2 separate regions of the Homo sapiens genome follow, and region 2 is reported to be linked to region 1. Evidence: microRNA targets listed by miRTarBase, many of them from high-throughput screens and not tested one by one. Region 1 holds a microRNA gene; the other region holds the end of a gene's coding sequence.
Evidence for each region. The annotated mature microRNA hsa-miR-6824-3p reads UCUCUGGUCUUGCCACCCCAG and lies in region 1 at 1,704-1,724, shown strand. An mRNA with a match to its seed (bases 2 to 7 or 8) in the 3' UTR can be bound and repressed. Matches are read on the target gene's strand: a 7mer-m8 pairs with bases 2 to 8, a 7mer-A1 pairs with bases 2 to 7 and ends in A, and an 8mer does both.

Region 2: the mRNA of MED18 is a reported target of hsa-miR-6824-3p. Seed matches in the 3' UTR shown: 8mer at 3,136-3,143.

What each region holds. Positions count from the first base shown.
Region 1 is chr3:48,630,975-48,635,359 of GRCh38, reverse strand. MIR6824 (microRNA 6824) reads left to right here and starts at 1,662; the gene lies at 1,662-1,724. It overlaps SLC26A6 (solute carrier family 26 member 6), which reads left to right. Exons shown (of 21, transcript NM_022911.3): 2 at 1,725-1,883; 3 at 1,970-2,109; 4 at 2,276-2,386; 5 at 2,964-3,115; 6 at 3,316-3,480; 7 at 3,559-3,711; 8 at 4,054-4,136; 9 at 4,220-4,367. RefSeq lists a silencer at 361-460.
Region 2 is chr1:28,334,525-28,338,909 of GRCh38, reverse strand. It overlaps MED18 (mediator complex subunit 18), which reads right to left. Exons shown (of 3, transcript NM_017638.3): 3 at 2,945-4,385. The coding sequence ends at 3,940. Among named protein-coding and RNA genes, the nearest start is that of MED18, 7.7 kb to the right of the region's middle.

The DNA of each region.
Region 1 (4,385 bases):
GCACATTCCCGGTGGCCCCGCGCGAGCGCCTCGCTGGAGCAGGCATTCTCCGCTTGCGACGCCTCGCTGGAGCAGGCATTCTCCGCTTGCGACGCCTCGGTTTACCTCTGCTGATTTTCTGCAGGCGGCTGCCCCTCTGCAGCAAGGGGTGGGGGCGGGAGCCGGCGCGACCCCAGTCCCTTGGGCTGTGCGGAAAGCCGCTGGTGTGACGCCCGAGGGCCATCCCGGGCCACAGGGAGGCAGCTGCGTGCGGAGGAGCCCGGCCAGGAGATGTGCCGGCGGGGGTGCGTGGGGCACGGGAGTCCCTGGCAGCGGCCCGTGGACTAGCTGCTTTCAGCTGAGTCCCGAGTCCACCCAGCTCCACTGATCCCGGAGTGAGCGCTCCGGCCTTTCTGGCCCCAGTTGCCTTCCTACAGGGAGGGGCCAATGATCAAGGCTCCGCCCTCCAAACGCGGGTCCCAAGTTGTCGGGGGAGGGAGCCCTTTAAGAAGACCTGAGTGACTCACGTAGGAAAGGAGAGGGGGCTCTACGATCTCCTTGAGATAGCGGTCCCAAGAGTCTCTGAGGATCTTCCTTGCACCCACTCCACACTCCTCCAACAGTACAGCCAGGTTAGAGGCGCTTCCCAGGTGAGTTCCTGTCCCTCAAATGGGATCCTCTCCCCAGGTCAGGGCTTTTCCTAGATCAGAACTTTCCTGACTGGTGAAAGCTTCCCCAACAGGCTAGAGTTTTCCCCCAGGTAAGATCCTTCTGTGAGATCTATTCCCAGGTGACAGCTTTTCCCCATTCCACGTGGGAGCCTCGCCCGAGGTCAGAGCTTTCTCTATGGGAGAGTACCCCCCAGGTGAGAACCCTCTCCCTCTAGGTCTTTTCTTCCCATGTGAGATCTTTCTCTGACTTCAAGTAGGTGCCTCTGGGCAGAGGGAAGATTCCCCCTGTATCAGAACTTGCCAGGCTGATAAAGATTCCCTGGTAGGTCAGAGATCCCTCTAGGTGAGATTCCCCTTGAAAGCTTCTATTCCCAGGTGAGCTCTTTCCCCCACTTCAAGTGGGTACTTCCCTTTCCATGTGGGAGCCTCTCCCTCTAGGTGAGAGATTGCCACTCCAAGAGCAAGCTCCTTCTCAGGTGAGAGCCAGTCCTTGGCTTCCCCATAACAGGCCTGAGCCGTCTACAACCTGGACCCTGGGGCTGGAGGCCCAGGGGCAAGCTTGGCTCCAACACTTTCCTTCCCTTAGAGGGGAGGGTCTCATCTGAGGCCTGAGGCTTGGGAAAGGAGTTGCTTGAGGAGCTGGACCCCTGGTTTGCTGGACCCCTTCCCTGAGTGTGCTCTCAGCCAGCAGTGGGCTCCCGGGGCAGCTGGAGGAGGACCTGGGGACTGGAGAGGGACTGGGTGGGGGAGGGAGCAGCCTGGGACCTGGACTGGTAGAACACTCAGCACTGGGCTGCCACATCTCGGCTGGAGGTATAGCTAGTGCTCATCCTGCAGTCCCTACTTGGGGGACTTTGTCCTAGAAAGAGGCTTTCTCACCAGCCAAAGTTCAGGTACTGCCCCTGTCTGAGTTTGGACATGTGGCCCACAGATGCCAGCTGGGGGCTGGAATACTGTACCTTGATCTTAGGGCCTGGAAAAATCAGGTAGGTAACTCTCTGGTCCTAGGTGGAGGTGTAGGGGAGGTTGGGCCAGGGATGCCTTCACTGTGTCTCTCTGGTCTTGCCACCCCAGACCGAGGGACACACAGGCACTGCTGTCTGCAACACAAGCAATGGACCTGCGGAGGCGAGACTACCACATGGAACGGCCGCTGCTGAACCAGGAGCATTTGGAGGAGCTGGGGCGCTGGGGCTCAGCACCTAGGACCCACCAGTGGCGGACCTGGTTGCAGTAAGGCCAAGATTGGGGCCTGGGGGCGCTGGCGGGGCCCAGGTAGCCCCTGTTCCTGACACCTACCCCTCATATCATGTCCCTAGGTGCTCCCGTGCTCGGGCCTATGCCCTTCTGCTCCAACACCTCCCGGTTTTGGTCTGGTTACCCCGGTATCCTGTGCGTGACTGGCTCCTGGGTGACCTGTTATCCGGCCTGAGTGTGGCCATCATGCAGCTTCCGCAGGGTGAGCCACCTTCAGTGCGTCGGCCTGGAAACCCTGTGGTCTGTGATGCCCAAAACTGGGGCCATGACCTCTACCTTGGAACTATGGCACCTAACCCAGGGCTGGGATTCCCTTATCGTTTCAAGATCTGCTCTCCAGGCCTGCACTGCTACCATTCTACCCCTAGGCTTGGCCTACGCCCTCCTGGCTGGATTGCCCCCCGTGTTTGGCCTCTATAGCTCCTTCTACCCTGTCTTCATCTACTTCCTGTTTGGCACTTCCCGGCACATCTCCGTGGGTAAGTGGAGGCAGGCCTAGCCTTCCAGGAGGATGCCCACATCCATCATGGAGGGCAGGGTGAGGGGGCACTGAGCAGGGCAGGAGCGGCTGGGGAAGAGGGCAGCATTGGTGCTGCATCCCTGGGCTAGCCCACGAGTCATCCCCAGGCAGGACTAGACCCCTGACTGTAGGACCACAGAGGCAGGTGACCTCAAAGCCCTGGCTCCAGGAAGATGAGAGTGGGTGAGGCAGCCCAAGGGGCCTGGAACTTGGCAGAGGCCTGAGCAGCCTAAGGCCAGCCCTGACCCCTTCCCTACTCCACAGAGAGCCTCTGTGTCCCGGGACCAGTAGACACAGGTGGGACAGGGTAGATGAGACAGGGCCAGCATTTCTAGCCATGCTTAAGGGCCTGTGAGCTCAGGGTTTACTCCTGGCCTGGCCAAACCTGAACCGCCAGCACTGTCCCTGTTCATGCAGCCATAATCTGAGTACATTTATCCAGAACTGGAAGTCTCCTGGCCTCTCTCTTAAGACCAGGGCTCCAGGGCAGGGCAGTGTCCTCTCCTCTTCAGACCTGCCCCGTGCCGTCCTTACAGGGACCTTTGCTGTCATGTCTGTGATGGTGGGCAGTGTGACAGAATCCCTGGCCCCGCAGGCCTTGAACGACTCCATGATCAATGAGACAGCCAGAGATGCTGCCCGGGTACAGGTGGCCTCCACACTCAGTGTCCTGGTTGGCCTCTTCCAGGTGTGGAACAGTCAGGAGTATGTGCCCCCCACCACCACTTCTGCTCCCGCCACTGTCCTGTCTGTACTCCCCTGAGTGTCTGACCATCGTCGTCCTCCTCTTGCCGTCTACTCATCCCCCTCCCATCCCACTTGCCCTGCGCTCCTCATTAGCAACCCCAGGACCCCTGCCTCTCCTGACTGCCCCTGGCCGCCCCACAGGTGGGGCTGGGCCTGATCCACTTCGGCTTCGTGGTCACCTACCTGTCAGAACCTCTTGTCCGAGGCTATACCACAGCTGCAGCTGTGCAGGTCTTCGTCTCACAGCTCAAGTATGTGTTTGGCCTCCATCTGAGCAGCCACTCTGGGCCACTGTCCCTCATCTATGTGAGTGAGGGTAGGGGGAGGGAGGGGTAGGTGTGCCCCATGGCCTTGAGTGCTAGCTGTGACCTGGCCTCTCCTCAGACAGTGCTGGAGGTCTGCTGGAAGCTGCCCCAGAGCAAGGTTGGCACCGTGGTCACTGCAGCTGTGGCTGGGGTGGTGCTCGTGGTGGTGAAGCTGTTGAATGACAAGCTGCAGCAGCAGCTGCCCATGCCGATACCCGGGGAGCTGCTCACGGTTCGAGGGCCAGGGAGTGGAGGGCAGGGGAGAAGGGCAGGTCAGGCTGGGTCCTTGCCACGTGGGCAGCCTCCTGTATTTGAGGGCCAGCTGGAGGGGGGCTGGGAGGGTTCTTGGGTATTGTGGGGGGCACAGCAGAAAGCCCCTATGTTGGTTTCTTCCTGCCCCTGACAGCATCTCCCCATAGCCGAAATGGTGTTGCCTGTCTCTCACCCTACGTGACTTTTTCCCACCCTCGAAGAAGGTTTTGCCCAGTATCTCCCTCCTCACCTCACAGTGGTTTATGTGTCCCCCTGACCATGGTGCCAGCACCTGCCTCCCTGACTCTGTCCTCTCCCACAGCTCATCGGGGCCACAGGCATCTCCTATGGCATGGGTCTAAAGCACAGATTTGAGGTAGATGTCGTGGGCAACATCCCTGCAGGGTGAGCTCTGGCCTCCATCAGGTCAGGGAGGGTTGGGCAGCCAGGACAGGACCTTGCTTTGGCCTCACAGATACCTCTCACAGGCTGGTGCCCCCAGTGGCCCCCAACACCCAGCTGTTCTCAAAGCTCGTGGGCAGCGCCTTCACCATCGCTGTGGTTGGGTTTGCCATTGCCATCTCACTGGGGAAGATCTTCGCCCTGAGGCACGGCTACCGGGTGGACAGCAACCAGGTCTGGGTGATGCGGGAT
Region 2 (4,385 bases), not on the chromosome of region 1:
CACCACTTACTAGTTCTGACTTTGGACAACAGAAAAAAGAAATTTGAAGTTGGTTGTAGTGGCTCATGCCTGTAATCCCACCATTTTGGGAGGCCAAGGCAGGCGGACTGTTTGAGCCCAGAAATTTTAGACCAGCCTGGGCAACGTGGTGAAACCCTATCTCTACAAAAAAATGCAATAATTAGCCAGGTGTGGTGGTGCATGCCTGTAGTCCCAGCTACCTGGGAAGCTGAGGTTGGAAGACCACCTGAGCCTGGGATGTCGAGGCTGCAGTGAGCTGTGATTGTGCCACTGCGCTCCAGTCTAGGCAACAGAGTGAGAAGACTATCTGAAAAAAAAAAAAAAATTGAGAAACCTCTCTGTATAACCTCATCTATAAAATGGAAATAATAACAACTCACAACCCTCATACAGTTGTTATGAGAAGTACATGAGTTGAAACATTTAAAGTACCTGTCATGGCTGGGTGCGATGGCTCAAGTCTGTAATTCCAGCACTGTGGGAGGCCAAGGCAGGTGGATCACCCAAGGTCAGGAGATCAAGACCATCCTGGCTAACATGGTGAAACCTCATCTCTACTAAAAATACAAAAATTAGCTGGGCATGGTGGTGGCCGCCTGTAATCCCAGCTACTCGGGAGGCTGAGGCAGGAGAATCGCTTGAACCCGGGAGGCAGAGGTTGCAGTGAGCTGCGATTGCATCATTGCACTCCAGCCTGGCAACAAGAGCAAAACTCCCTCTCAAAAAAAAAAAAAAAAAATCAAAATTAGCTGGGCGTGGTAGCACATGCCTGTAATCCTAGCTATCCAGGAGGCTGAGGTAGGGGCATCGCTTGAACCCGGGAGAAGGAGGTTGCAGTGAGCCGAGATGGCACCACTGCACTCCACCCTGGGTGACAGAGCAAGACTCTGTCTCAAAAAATAAATGAATTAATAAATAATAAAAATAAAGTACCTGTCATGGAGCAAACACTATTTAAACACTAATACTTTTATTAGTATGAAAGCATATGCAAGTTGGAAGTTATGAGTTAGATTTACATAGAGTAACAAGTACATATCAGGCCAGGCACAGTGGCTCATGTCTGTAATCCCAGCATTTTGGGAGGCTGAGGCAGGCAGATCACTTGAGTTCAGAAGTTCGAGACCAGCCTGGCCAACATGGTGAAACCCCCTCTCTACTAAAAATACAAAAATTAGCTGGAAATCACCTGAACCCAGGAGGCGGAGGTTGCAGTGAGCTGAGATCATGCCATTGCACTCCAGCCTGGGCGACAGAGCAAGACTCTGTCTCAAAAAAATAAATAAATAAAAGCTCTATTGTTACACAGCTTATAAAAGCAAAAAAAATGGGATCAAACTGAAAATCATAGAGGATTCAATTAGATAACTTATAGCAAATCCATATGATGAAATAGAAATAGCAATTATAATTGTCAATATTTAAATACCAGCTCTGCCAATCAGTAGCTGTATAGCTCAGGGAAAGTTAATTAATCTATATGTACCAGTTCTCCTGTTTACAAAACGGGTTTAACATACCTGAAGCACTTAGGATAGCACTGACACATAACAGGAACTCAATAAACTAGCTTTAAAAAGAAAAAAATTTTGGCCGGGTGCGGTGGCTCATGCCTGTAATCCCAGTACTTTGGTGAGGCTGAGGTAGGGAGTTCGAGACTAGCCTGACCAACATGGTGAAACACCGTTTCCTTCTTCTTTTTTTTTTTTTTTGAGACGGAGTCTTGCTCTGTCGCCCAGGCTGTACTGCAGTGACGCGATCTCAGCTCGCTGTAAGCTCCGCCTCCCGGGTTCAAGCAATTCTCCTGCCTCAGCCTCCCGAGTAGCTGGGACTATAGGCGGCCGCCACCACGCCCGGCTAATTTTTGTATTTTTAGTGGAGACGGGGTTTCACCGTGTTAGCCAGGATGGTCTTGATCTCCTGACCTCATGATCTGCCCACCTCGGCCTCCCAAAATGCTGGGATTACAGGCGTGAGCAACGCGCCCTGCCCGAAACACCGTTTCTTAAAAACACAATGCCACTGCACTCCAGCGTGGACAACAGTGAGACCCTTTCTCGAAAATAAAAAATATAATACAAAAAATTAAGGCCGGGCGCGGTGGCTGACGCCTGTAATCCCAGCACTTTGGGAGGCCGAGCGGGGCGGATCACGAGGTCAGGAGATTGAGACCATCCTGGCTAACACTGTGAAACCCCGTCTCTACTAAAAATACAAAAAATTAGCCGGGCGTGGTGGCGGGCGCCTGTGGTCCCAGCTACTCGGGAGGCTGAGGCAGAAGAATGGCGTGAACCCGGGTGGCGGAGCTTGCAGTGAGCCGTGAGTGCGCCACTGTACTCCATCTCAAAAAAAAAAAAAATTAGCCGGGCATGGTGGCCCATGCCTGTAATCCCAGCTACTTGGGAAGCTGAGGCAGGAGAATCACTTGGACCTGGGAGGTGGAGGTTGCAGTGAGCTGAGATCATCGCAGTACTGCACTCCAGCCTGGGCAACAAGAGCGAAACTCTGTCTCAAAAAAAAAAAAAAATTTTTTTTAACAAAAGGGGAGTGTAGACAAATGTCCTGGAAAGATGTTAATGATAGATGAATGGGAAAAAAGGGTTATAAACCAGTATATATGGAATCTTTTTATAAAATAAACACATTTCATATACATAAATTTATAAAAAAATAAAGACTAGATGGATATATACCAAAATAGAACTAGTACTTCTCTTTGGATAATAGGTGTTATTTTCTATCTGTACTATATTTTAAAAGTTTTCAACAATAAATATGCTACTTTTATGAAAGGTGAAAACTCTCATCCTCATCTCTGCCACAATTAAAACTAGGAACTGTCATTTTTTTTGCTTCAACTGGTAATGAATCTACCCCAAATTTACAGGGTAAGGGAATAAAGAATCAGAATTACACAGACATGTCTCTTCATTGGCTTTATTACCATGTAACACAAGCTCACAGCCTCTAATGTTACCAACCTTATACACAAATGGCCAAACAAGAAATTGTCCTTTCCAAAAGATAATTTATTCTGGTTTCCCCTCTTCATTTTTATTTTTTTTTGAGACGGAGTTTCGCTCTTCTCACCCAGGCTGGAGTGCAATGGCGTCATCTCTGGTCACTGCAACCTTCACCTCCTGGGTTCAAGCGATTCTCCAGCCTCAGCCTCCCAAGTAGCTGGGATTACAAGCGCCTGCTACCATGCCCGGCTAAATTTTGTATTTTTCGTAGAGATGGGGTTTCACCATTTGGCCAGGCTGGTCTCAAACTCCTGACCTTGGGTGATCCACCTACCTCAGCCTCCCAAAGTGCTGGGATTAGAGGTGTGAGCCACTGCGCTTGGCCCGGTTTCCCCTCTTAATACAGTGGGATTAGATAGATTCTCCGTGACATCCTGAGCCTTTAATATAGAAAGGCTGTCATGAAAGTGAAATCGCCACATGAGGAGAACAGTGCAAAGAACCAATTAATTCTCACCATCCTCTCCCTGAAGGAAGAATGCCTGCCTGGCAATGGTGAAATGGGACATTTAAAACATATTTTTTTGGCCAGGCGTGGTGGCTCATGCCTGTAATCCCAGCACTTTGGGAGGCCAAGGTGGGTGGATCACGAGGTCAGGAGTTCGAGAATAGCCTGACCAACATGGTGAATCCCCATTTCTACTAAAAATACAAAAATTAGCTGAGCATGGTGGCATGTGCCTGTAATCCCAGCTACTCAGGAGGCTGAGGTGGGAGAATTGCTTGAACCCAGGAGGCAGAGGTTGCAGTGAGCCGAGATCGTGCCACTGCACTCCAGCCTGGGAAACAAAGCGAGACTCTGTCTCAAAAACAAAACAAAACAAAAACCAAAAAAAGCAAACATATTTTTTCAAACAAGTAAGGATAGGCCCCAAATGTGGACAGATCCTCTTAGTCACATGAGCCTCTTGGGGTCTATTTTCTCTAGGTGAACCAGAGGTTTTAGCTGTTCTGCGAAGTTCTTCATGTCATCAGAGACCATGTCCTGCCCAGCGGGTGCTACCACACTTAATTCCACGAGATAGGAGAGTGACAAGGCCTCAGTGCTGTCTGTGTTCCCTGGCACCAGGATGCGGAAAATCTTGTACACCATAATCTTCATGATGCCCTTACGGAACAAATGTCCCTTAGCAACAAACTCATGGTCCATGCGGAAGCCCATTTCCATCAAGAAGTCGGTGAGGTTCTCAGATGTGGCAATGTCCACGCAGTTTCGCACCAGGGCATGGCGGTTCTTGTCTCCCATTTCTGGCTGTCCCAGGTAGCGCAGATGCCAGGGTGCCCCTGCCCTGTCCATAGAGCGTCGGGCCCTGAGAACAAATGGGCTGGCTTGCTGGCCCT